Homo sapiens: one gene and its partners. The protein of the gene in region 3 purifies or fractionates together with the protein of the main gene of each other region. This does not show direct contact. Each region holds a gene or a part of one and is shown on either strand. Other genes may lie near its edges. The genes, in order: SIGLEC12, CRTAP and MIA3.

Region 1 (3,752 bases), on a different chromosome or scaffold from region 3:
AGCAGAGTCTGTCCCCAGAATCGACCAGGGTCTGTCCAGGCTGTCCTGAGCCTTGGTTTGTGCACCTGGAAGATCTCAGAGGTGGTTTGATGTCAGTAGTGAGACTGTTTGCACCCTCCTCTAGGGCTGTGTGTCATTCCACTGTCTGAATAGTCTCTGATTTTGTGGCATCTTCTAATGGAAGATCATGGCACTAATTTTATCCTACAGCACAAACACTGCAATGAATATTGTTGTATCTACTCCCACAAGGAATATCTAAGTGTATGGAATAAAGTCCTAAAAGCAAAATATAGCAGTGTCATATGTCTTTCTGATTTTGAAAGATAGAGTGAAATTGTTCTAATTAAAGATGGACAAGTTTACATCCCCAACAGTGAGCAGTGAACGTGCATATGTCCCTACAATTCAGCATGTATCAGTGTCTGTTCCATTCACCACTCTCTTTCTGTATCCTTCCTCCCTGCCTCGATCACTTTGTCTCTCTCTGCCCTTCTGTCTCTTTCTCTACAGCATCCACAACCTTGAGGAATGGCTCGGCCCTTTCAGTCCTGGAGGGCCAGTCCCTGCACCTTGTCTGTGCTGTCGACAGCAATCCCCCTGCCAGGCTGAGCTGGACCTGGGGGAGCCTGACCCTGAGCCCCTCACAGTCCTCGAACCTTGGGGTGCTGGAGCTGCCTCGAGTGCATGTGAAGGATGAAGGGGAATTCACCTGCCGAGCTCAGAACCCTCTAGGCTCCCAGCACATTTCCCTGAGCCTCTCCCTGCAAAACGAGTACACAGGTGGGTAGGGGAGGGTCTGGAGGAGGAGAACACACATGTCCCACCCTCAGGGTCCAGCTGGGAGACCTGGAATTTCCCTGCAACCCACAGCATCACAGTCCTCTTGCTGCCAAGCAGTGAGTGCGGGGTGGGGAGAGGGGAGGAGTTAATCTTGGAGGGGAGGAGCTGGGGCCTGGACAAGTGTGTTTGGGGATACAAGGGCCTTGCTTTCCAGTGCCTGGACTAGTGTGAGGCAAGTGAGGCACTCACTTTGGGCACACAATTTAAGAACCAAAAATAAAACAACTCAGCAAGCAAGAGAAATAATCTTGCCATGTGATTATCTTTTCGAAAATTAAAAATTATTGTAAAATAATTCCATGGTGAAAACTAATCAAAATTTTAAATAAAGGCAGACTGCACCCAGCACTCTCATGCCTCAGTGACCTCAGGAGAAGTTCCCTTCCGTCCTTGTTCTTTCTGTCCGGGAAGCGGGACTGGGGTACCCAAGTCTGGGGCCCTACAGGCAGTGGGAGGAGAAGAGGCCCAGTTCTTGGAGGGTAAACCCCAAAACAACTCCAATCCATCCTCAGGCAAAATGAGGCCTATATCAGGAGTGACGCTAGGGGCATTCGGGGGAGCTGGAGCCACAGCCCTGGTCTTCCTGTACTTCTGCATCATCTTCGTTGTGTGAGCATTGACCCTGGGGAGGAAGAGCCTTGGGGGAGGGCAGGCTGGGAACAAAATCCCTGAAGCCAGACCTGGAAGGACCTGGATGGGTCAAGAGCTTGAAGCAAGGGCCAGAATGAGGTCATGGGTGCATGGTAAGAATTTCATGAGCGCCCCTGTTTGTGGAGCTCCATGTCTGTGGCAAACCTCAGACCCTACTGCCCAGGAAAAAAGAGCCTCTGTTTTCGACATTGGGGTCTCTGGAATGGGACCACTCCCCTCCCGCCTCAGTTACCCCTCCAGCTCCCCAATAGGAAATACAGGGCAGGGGTTGGTCTGCCCACTGCACCCCGATCTGACCACACTGAAAGGCTCTCTGGTCTCTTCACTCAGAGTGAGGTCCTGCAGGAAGAAATCGGCAAGGCCAGCAGTGGGCGTGGGGGATACAGGCATGGAGGACGCAAACGCTGTCAGGGGCTCAGCCTCTCAGGTGAGTGAGCATTGAATCACAGCCCTTCTCCCCTGCTTTCTCCCAGGCCAGGCATGGAAGGGGATTACTTCCTCACTGTCCTTCCTTTCTTCCCCTACAGCCGAAAAATCACGTCCTGTCCACTTTTTCCTCCTAAGAACAGCTTTCATTGCCCTCCCCATCCCATCCTGACCCCTCTCACTGCTGAAGCCTCTGGATCTCTGTCTGGGACCTCCTCACCTCCCTGCCTCTTGCCTCCCCTTCCCGGCCTGGAGGGACGTTCCACAGCCATCACTGTCTGCTTCCTCTGCACGTTGAATAGCTTTTGCTTCAAGTTCCATTTGGCTCAGCAGAGCACTGTCACTAATCTGGGTTTATTTAAATCTTTGTTCTCCAGGAATTTTTTGTTTTTATTTTTATTTATTTATTTATTTTGAGACAGAGTTTTGATCTTGTTGCCCAGGCTGAAGTGCGATGGTGCGATCTCAGCTCACCACAACCTCCACCTCCCGGGTTCAAGTAATTCTGCCTCAGTCTCTCGAGTAGCTGGGATTACATACACGAGCCACCATGCCCGGCTAATTTTGTATTTTTAGTAGAGACGGAGTTTCTCCATGTTGGTCAGGCTGGTCTCAAACTCCCAACCTCAGGTGATCGCCTGCCTCAGCTTCCCAAAGTGCTGGGATTATAGGCGTGAGCCACCGCGCCCAGGCTTTCCATGGACTTTTTATATTAATTTTGATTTTTTAAATATTGTGTTAAAATTGTATTCATCTTCATTGCTGAGATTTGGGGCACCCTTTTAATTTTGTGCTCTGGGTAAGGGCTTCCCTGGCTTTGCTCCAATCCCAGCCCCGCCTCCAGCCACTCCTGCCTCTGCTCCATGCTCCATCAACGCTGGACTCCAGTGTCATCACCAACAAGGTTATTTGTGTCTCTACGTCTTCACATTGGCTGTTCCTCCTCCTCAGATGCTTTTTTCTCCCCACTCCCTGATTCCTATTCATCCTTCATGCCCTGATATAAATATTACACTCATCATTTATTGATTGTATTGAATGTGACTGGAAGCCTGTGGAAGGTTTCGAGTAGCAGAGTAACATCCATCCCTTCATTCATTAATTCATTCAGGAAAAGTTATAGAGCATCTCCTAAGAGAAGATGCCAGCGACCCATCTGTGGAAAACATTTAAAAGTCTTGGGCTCATCGAAGTTTAATTCTATACAGAGGGATATGGCCAAACCAATCAACTAATCAAAACTAATAAAACAACAAATGAATAAAATATAAAGATAGATATATGCTTTAGGGAAAATGCAATGTAGAAGAAATAGGAAGTTCCAAGGAGAAGGCTTGTGGGTTTATTTTTGTTTATTCATCCAACCATTCATCCATCCATCCATCTGTCCGTCTGTCCGTCCGTCCATCCATCCAACCACCCACCCACCCGTCAGTCCATCCATCCATCCATCCATCCATCCATCCACCCACCCACCCACCCATCCATCCATCCATCCATCCATCCATCCATCCACCCACCCGTCTGTCCATCCATCCATCCATCCATCCATCCATCCATCCATCCACCCACCCGTCCGTCCGTCCATCCATCCATCCATCCATCCATCCATCCATCCACCCACCCACCCGTCCATCCATCCATCCATCCATCCATCCATCCACCCACCCACCCGTCCGTCCATCCATCCATCCATCCATCCATCCATCCACCCACCCACCCGTCCATCCATCCATCCACCCATCCATCCATCCAGCCATCTACGGTGGAAAATAACACATAACATAAAATTTACCACCTCAACTTTATTAAGTTTATGGTTGTGCTAGATC
Region 2 (3,752 bases), on a different chromosome or scaffold from region 3:
AAACAAAAAAAAGACTTTATTTTTTAGAGTGGTTTTAGATTCATAGCGAAACTGAGCGGAAACTACAGAGTTCAAATATACTCCATGACCCTACAACATGCGCAAGCTCCCCCACTGTCAATGTCTTGCACTAGAATGGTACATTTGTTACAATCAATGAACCTACATCAACACATCGTTATCACCCAAAGTCCGGTTTACATTAGGGCTCACTCTTAGTGTTGTACATATTATGGATTTTAACAAATGTATAGCATATATCCACCATTATACTATCATATAGAATAGTTTCACTGCTCCAATAATCCTGTCCTCTACCCATTCATTCCTCCCTTTCCATAATTCTCAGCAACCACTGATCCTTTTACTGTCTCCATAGTTTTGCCTTTTCCAGAATGTCATTTGGCTGGAATCACACAGTATGTAGCCTTTTCAGTTTGGCTTCTTTCAACCAGTAATATGCATTTAAGACTTCTCCATGTCTTTTCATGGCTTGATAGCTCATTTCTTTTTGGCTTGGAATAAAATTCCATTGTGTGTATATACCACAGTTTATGTATCCACTTACCCACTGAAGGACATCTTGGTTGATTCCAAGTTATGGTAATTGTGAATAAAGTTGCTACAAACATCCATTCGCAGGTGTGTGCATAAGTTTTAACCCATTTGGGTAAATACCAAGAAGTGCAATTTCTGGATTGTATGAGTAGAGTATGCCTAGTTTTGTAAGAAACGGCCCAACTGTCTTCTAAACTGTATGTACCATTTTGCATTGCCACTATCAATGAATGAGAGTTCCTGTTGCTCCACATCCTTGTCAGCATGTGACGTTGTCAGTGTTTTGGATTTTGTAGTGGTATCTCATTGCTGTTTTGGCCTATATTTTTCAAAAATGACAACGGCATGACAAGAAAAGCCGAGGAACCAGTTTAAAGGATATGAAATAGACTAGATGTAACAGTGATCACGGATGGACTGCATCCTAAGAGAAAAAAGTGCCATGAAAGACATAATTGGAACAGCTGACATAACCGGAAATGGAACATGATTAAAGTCTTCTATCAGTATTAAATTTCCTAAATTTGATTGTCTGGTAGTTTCATTCTTAGGACATACATACTGAAAGACTAAGGGGTTGGGCACGGTGGCTCACGCCTGTAATCCCAGCACTTTGGGAGGCAGAGGCAGGTAGATCACCTAAGGTCAGGAGTTCAAGAACAGCCTGGCCAACATGGCAAAACCTCATCTCTAGTAAAAAATAGAAAAATTAGCCAGGTATGGTGGTGTGTGCCTATGATCCCAGCTACTCGGGAGGCTAAGGCAGGGAGAATTGCTTGAACCCGGGAGGCGGAGGTTGCAGTGAGCCGAGATCGCGCCACTGCACTCCAGCCTGGGTGACAGGGCGAGACTCCGTCTCAAAAAAAAAAAAAGGAAAAAAAAAAAGAAAAAAAAAAGACTAACGGACAGTGGGCCTGATACATGCAACCTATCTCAAATGAGTCAGAAAAAAATGTAAAGATAGAAATGTGGTATAACGTTAGCAACTTGTGAATCTTGATGAAGGGTATATAGGAACTTTTTGTACTGTTTTTGCAGCTTTCTTGTAAATTATTTCAAGATTTAAAAGTTTAAAGATTTTTTAAAAGTGCTGCCATTAACATTCCATCCATATTTTTTGATGCACACGCGCAAGCTTCTCCAGCATATTCCACCGAATGGTGTTGCAGATTCATAAGGTGTGCACATCTTCAACCTGACTAGCTATACAGTTTACAAAGTGCTGACATCCTTATTAATTTTATTTTTGCACTGTCTTTTTCTCTCACTAAAATTTAAGGTTGGGCAGTGCTATTAAAAGTGCGGCCCTTGGGCCCGCAGCATTAGCCTCATCAGGGTGCTGGTTAAACACACAAATCGTCAGACCTCCACCCCAGACTTTCTGAATCAGAAACTCTGGGGGCACAGCCCAGGAATCTTCGTTTTCACAAACCTCCAAACGAATATAAAGATCGTAGATTATATAGACCGTAGGGCCGATGTATATAATCTATTAGGGCCGCGTCGGCCTTGCAGGCGGGTCTCCAAGTGAATGAGCGGCAGAGTCCCATCATGCGCATCAGCCTGCGTGAACCAGTGCGCAGCGCGCCTTTCCCGGGCACCCTCTAGGTGCTGGCAGCTGGCGCCCAGATCCCCCGGCTGGGTGGGGAGGGGCGGCCGGACGGGGCGGGCCGGAGGCTGGCGTCCCCGCCCCGAAAGCACTGGGCCCGCCGCGTCGCACCGTCCTCTTTCCTTTCCTTCTCCCTCCCCTTTTCCCTTCCTTCGTCCCTTCCTTCCTTCCTTTCGCCGGGCGCGATGGAGCCGGGGCGCCGGGGGGCCGCGGCGCTGCTAGCGCTGCTGTGCGTGGCCTGCGCGCTGCGCGCCGGGCGCGCCCAATACGAACGCTACAGCTTCCGCAGCTTCCCACGGGACGAGCTGATGCCGCTCGAGTCGGCCTACCGGCACGCGCTGGACAAGTACAGCGGCGAGCACTGGGCCGAGAGCGTGGGCTACCTGGAGATCAGCCTGCGGCTGCACCGCTTGCTGCGCGACAGCGAGGCCTTCTGCCACCGCAACTGCAGCGCCGCGCCGCAGCCCGAGCCCGCCGCCGGCCTCGCCAGCTATCCCGAGCTGCGCCTCTTCGGGGGCCTGCTGCGCCGCGCGCACTGCCTCAAGCGCTGCAAGCAGGGCCTGCCAGCCTTCCGCCAGTCCCAGCCCAGCCGCGAGGTGCTGGCGGACTTCCAGCGCCGCGAGCCCTACAAGTTCCTGCAGTTCGCTTACTTCAAGGCAAGTCCGCCTCGCCCCGTCCCAGGCCCCGGCCCCGCCCCTGACCCAGCCTCCAGGCCCTAGCCCCGCCCCTGCGCCCGGGGCCGCGTTGCCCCTCCAGTTCTAGACCTGGCTCCCTCCCATCCAGCCCTGCCAAAGGTCTCCTCCAAGTCCTGTCTCCTTCTTCATCTCAACTAGAGATGAAAATGCCTTTCTTGAAGGGTAACTCTAAGGTAGAGAATACGTACACAGAACGCAGTACAGCGCCAGGCACCCAACAAAGTGCCTGATAAATGTTCTCTGTTATTTGAGGGCAGACGCCTCTTTTCTGTATATACCATTAAAGTCGCCTTTTTTCTCAAGTGAGCGGTGACTTGCGATAATAAAGCAGAAGACCTGAGGAGCCGACAAGTACCTTTTATTTTTATTTTTTGTTGAGACAGGGTCTCACAGTCGCCCAGGCTGGAGTGCAGAGGCGCTATCATGGCTCACTGCAGCCTTGACCTCCTCAGGCTCAGGTGATCCTCCACCTCAGCCTCCTGAGTAGCTGGGATTATAGGCGCGCGCCACCACACCTAGCTAATTTTTTGGTATTTTCTGTAGAGACAGAGTTTCGCCACGTTGCCCAGGCTGATCTCGAACTCCCGGACTCAAGTGATCCTCCCACCTCGCCTCCCAGAGTTCTGGGATTACAGTCGTGAGCCATTGCACCCAGCTGACTAGTTCCTTTTAAAGAGGATGAAATTGAGGCCAGGGAAGGGCAGGGACTCCTTGCAAGGACACATCCCTGCTTAAAGGGGAACTCGTGCACCGTGAGTCATCAGGATTGGCCCTCTCCGCTGTTTCTCTCTTTCATCTAGAATTTAACACAGTTCACTGCCTCCTTTTAATGGCTGCTTAAGTTCTCTCTGTGATTGCTGGCTAAAAATAGCCACAAATTGCAGTTCTCT
Region 3 (3,752 bases):
GACTTTAAGTATGGTGCAATTCCAGATGGTTAGTTACTGATTTTTAAATAAAAACACCAACGTTTAAATATTAATTAATATTAATTTTGGAATAATATCTGTCGCCCCCATTTCCCCCTAAAACAGAACTGATTTCAACCCTTGGTTGCTGACCTAGGGCATGTTATAACCCTCACAGTCCTAAATCATTCTTTCTCATGGCATTATACTCTTCCAATCTTTTTATTATATTCCTCAAAAATCAGTGGCAAGGAATGGGAAAGATAGATAAGGGACTGTACATTTTAAAATTTTTAAAGATTTCTATACTTTTATGGCCATGACACATCATTTTCATTTTTCTGTTGTGCACCCTTTTTCTACAGGAATGGTAAAAACAATGGAACATCAGGTCAAACAACTCTTGCTACTAATGTAAACTCACTCTCAGAAAACCATTCTCAAATAGACAATGAGGATCGTAAAGAAAGCATGTGAATGCTATACAAGTGGGAAATAAACTTCTTTGAAATAAAAAGACGTCACTTGTAGAGTTCACAGGTGACGGAGGAGCAGCCGGAAGTGTGCCACCAGCCACCATCTTCAGTTCTGGGAGCCTGAGTTTACATGTTCCCCAAATGGCACAAGCCTCATAACAGTCCAATGAGTCAACAGACACTTGGGAAATATTAATAAACAAATTTTTATGAGCTATTACTACAAAGAACTTCAGCAAGAGGGGAGATAGTTTAGTGATCTTTTAGTAAACATTTTTAGCGTAACAGTCTTTGTGACCAGATAGTTTAAAAAAACGCTTATAAACACCATTGCTCCGTATTCAGCTGGTGTACACTAAAAATAGGATAATGGAAATACATGTTCTTAAAGCATTTCCACAGGAAATGTTCATATTTTTCATGACATTCTAAATCATTTTGCAATTACATATGCTACATTAGCTAAAACACAGGTATTCTTTATTGCACATTTCAAAGTTGTAAGGACGCTCTAGCTTAAAAGGTGATTTTTATTTAGGGAAGAAATGACATTTTTGAATTGTTTGGCTCAAAAATGCACACTGCCAAGGCAGCTTAGTTCTAACAACAAACCTTTTAAAATAAACTTTTGGATTTTGAAGCCAATGAAATCCTTTACTGTAATGGATAATGCACAGTACACTTTCTTTCCAATGAAACCTCAGAGGTCATAGTTTTATGGGCTCTGTTTTAAAGCCTGTGAACAGTCCTGGCTAGTGCTCTGAGAGGCAGGTGGAGGCTCATCTCTAGAGCCTGACGGCAGTAAGTCTCTTACAGCAGGTGGTGGTGGGTATTCCTGGGGACCATGGGTTGGGGGTGGTAATCGGGTACCAGGAATAAAGTACTCTCTTGGGCCAAGTGAACCTAAAGGTCTAAATGGTGCGTGTCCAGGTAAAAATCCCCGAGGGTGGAGAGGCAGGTCCCGTCTTCCTGGTGGAACGCCTGGTGCAAATTCTCTTAAGCCTAGTGGTGGACGCATACCAGGGCCTGGAAAACAAAAATTATTTCCAGTAAATTCCTAGGAACGTATTTAAATTAAGATAATGCCAGGTATGTTAATATAGTCTGTCATCCTTTTTTTTTTTTTTTTTTTTTTTTGGCGGCAGGGTCTTGCCTGTCACATGGGCTGGAGTGTAATGAGTGATCATGGCTCACTGCAGCCTCAATCTCCCGGACTCAATCAATCCTCCCACCTCAGACTCCCCAGTAGCTGGGACTACAGGTGCACGCCACCACTCCCAGCTAATTTTTGGATTTTTTGTAGAGATGGGGGTTTCACCATGTTGCCCAGGCTGGTCTCAAACTCCTAGGCTCAAGGGATCCACCTGCCTCAGCCTCGTCTAATGAATGCTGGGATTCATAAAGTGCTGGGATTACAGGCGTGAGCCACTGTGCCTGGCCTGCCATCTTTATCTGAAAAAGAGAGATAGATTTGTACTTGGAAGTACTATATACCATACCAAGAAGACAGACTAAATATGGCTTCATTGCAATAAAAATTTTGATAAATTCCATTAACTACTGTGTATCAGTTAAAAATTTATGCAGTAGCTCAAGATGTACCTAATAAATGCCATAAAAATTAAGGTGCTTGCCCTGCTGGAAAAGGCTTTCCAGCTCCATCTAATTAAATTCAGCAGCATTCATTAGATAGCTGTTAAATTCTACCTTCTCTTTCATATCTCCCTTCTTTGTATTCCCAAGGTGAGGGTTGAGGGTTTTGTCTTTCCTTAATATTCTGTGACCTACTGCTTATGCTTCCATTATGGGTGATTAGAAGCTTTATGTTGTAGAATGTGTATATTTGTGACCTACAGGACATCTTAGTTAGGGGATGTATTTTATCTACCTTGCTATCCATTGCAGAGCCTAGTACACAGCCACAGATGTTCAATGTGATGAATATTTCTGGCTTTTTATAAATAGCCCCTTTCCTTGTTCTATTAGAGACAACTATTGCCCATCTAATCACAGGAGATTATGTAGCACCCTTTGTGTCTGAAGAAACTTGGGGAAAAGTTACGGTGTACTCAATCAGCTTCACTGCTGCATTGCAAAGCCCCGCAATTGCAGTTGTTTTAGCAAGGGATAGATGGAGAAGATGAATGTGCTTTACAAGTCAATTACTACTGTTCAGATCATCTTACCAAAGGGTGGAGGAAGTGGCCGAGGCCCAAAAGGTCCGCAGAGCTGAGGTGGTGGTCCATATCGAATGGGTGGTGGTACAGGGCCTCCCATGGGGGTGCTCATGAGAGGGACTCCTGGGAAAGGAGGGGGCCCTTTTGGAGCCATATTAACCTGCAGAGTAGAAACAATTGAAGTTTTGAAATACTATGGTATGACAGACAAAAGCACCAACACCAGTAAAAACTAAAACCCAATGAAGCAGATGTCAGGCACTTGTCCAAAGAGCAGAATTAGTGCAAAAAACTCTACCCCTCTCATTTGTTCCCACTGACAAGCTTAGAAAGGTTAAAAGTATGCCACAGGAGTGAACACTTGCTGTATCATATTATTGCTTACATCTGCAAATGGAAGGGAACGCACAGGTTATAAATGGAGGTCATTCCTGACTAATGATAGAAGTTACGCCATTCATACATCTATTTCTAAGGCAGTCACTCCCTCTGCACATCCCTCCTATCAGAGTAATTTCCATATTAAGAATGCAGAGAATGAAAGGGAATGAAAAATCCATTCTCTACCATGTAACAGCGATTATTCAGAGTACCTTCTGTAGGCCCTACATATATTAACACAAATTCTGACATCTCTAAATCTGTAATAGGACCATCTTGTTCTAAATATGCAGGAACACAGGCGCAGAGAGTATTAGATTTGCTGATGGTCACACAGCATGTAAGAGGCTGGCTGGAATTCCATGCCAGGTTTGACTCCAAGGCCACGTTCTTTCCACCTCTGCTTCTCCTTTCTAACAAAGTAGTCTCTACACTCTTCGAAGTCTCCTACTTCAAAGGGGTCTCGGGTCTTATCCAAGCTGCTCTTGGATAAAAACATTTCTCAAGAAATGTGTATTCCTGGAGTCCTGTGCTGGAACTTGGAAGTATTTTCCAAGAGAAACAATGTTATGTACACAAATTATACAGGCACAGCTCTATTCATCTTCATTCACTAGTAATACTGTCTACTATGAGATACTGATTAATCACTTCCTATGGGAAAGTGGGTTGGAAACTCTCAATCATTAAAATTATTTTAATTTCAATGTCGAGAATC

Evidence for each region.
Region 1: the proteins of MIA3 (region 3) and SIGLEC12 purify together in Homo sapiens (affinity purification with mass spectrometry; 3 studies listed by BioGRID and IntAct, with this or other methods). This does not show direct contact.
Region 2: the proteins of MIA3 (region 3) and CRTAP purify together in Homo sapiens (affinity purification with mass spectrometry; 3 studies listed by BioGRID and IntAct, with this or other methods). This does not show direct contact.

Annotation. Positions count from the first base shown.
Region 1 is NC_000019.10:51,495,049-51,498,800, reverse strand, and holds part of SIGLEC12 (sialic acid-binding Ig-like lectin 12 isoform a precursor), read left to right. Parts: intron 1-513; coding exon 514-783; intron 784-1,355; coding exon 1,356-1,452; intron 1,453-1,824; coding exon 1,825-1,921; intron 1,922-3,752. UniProt on the Homo sapiens protein: Putative adhesion molecule that mediates sialic-acid dependent binding to cells. The sialic acid recognition site may be masked by cis interactions with sialic acids on the same cell surface.
Region 2 is NC_000003.12:33,111,726-33,115,477, forward strand, and holds the start of CRTAP (cartilage-associated protein isoform 1 precursor), read left to right. Parts: upstream 1-2,288; 5' UTR 2,289-2,352; coding exon 2,353-2,823; intron 2,824-3,752. UniProt on the Homo sapiens protein: Necessary for efficient 3-hydroxylation of fibrillar collagen prolyl residues.
Region 3 is NC_000001.11:222,663,059-222,666,810, reverse strand, and holds part of MIA3 (transport and Golgi organization protein 1 homolog isoform 1 precursor), read right to left. Parts: intron 2,814-3,752; coding exon 2,663-2,813; intron 1,503-2,662; coding exon 1,192-1,502; 3' UTR 1-1,191.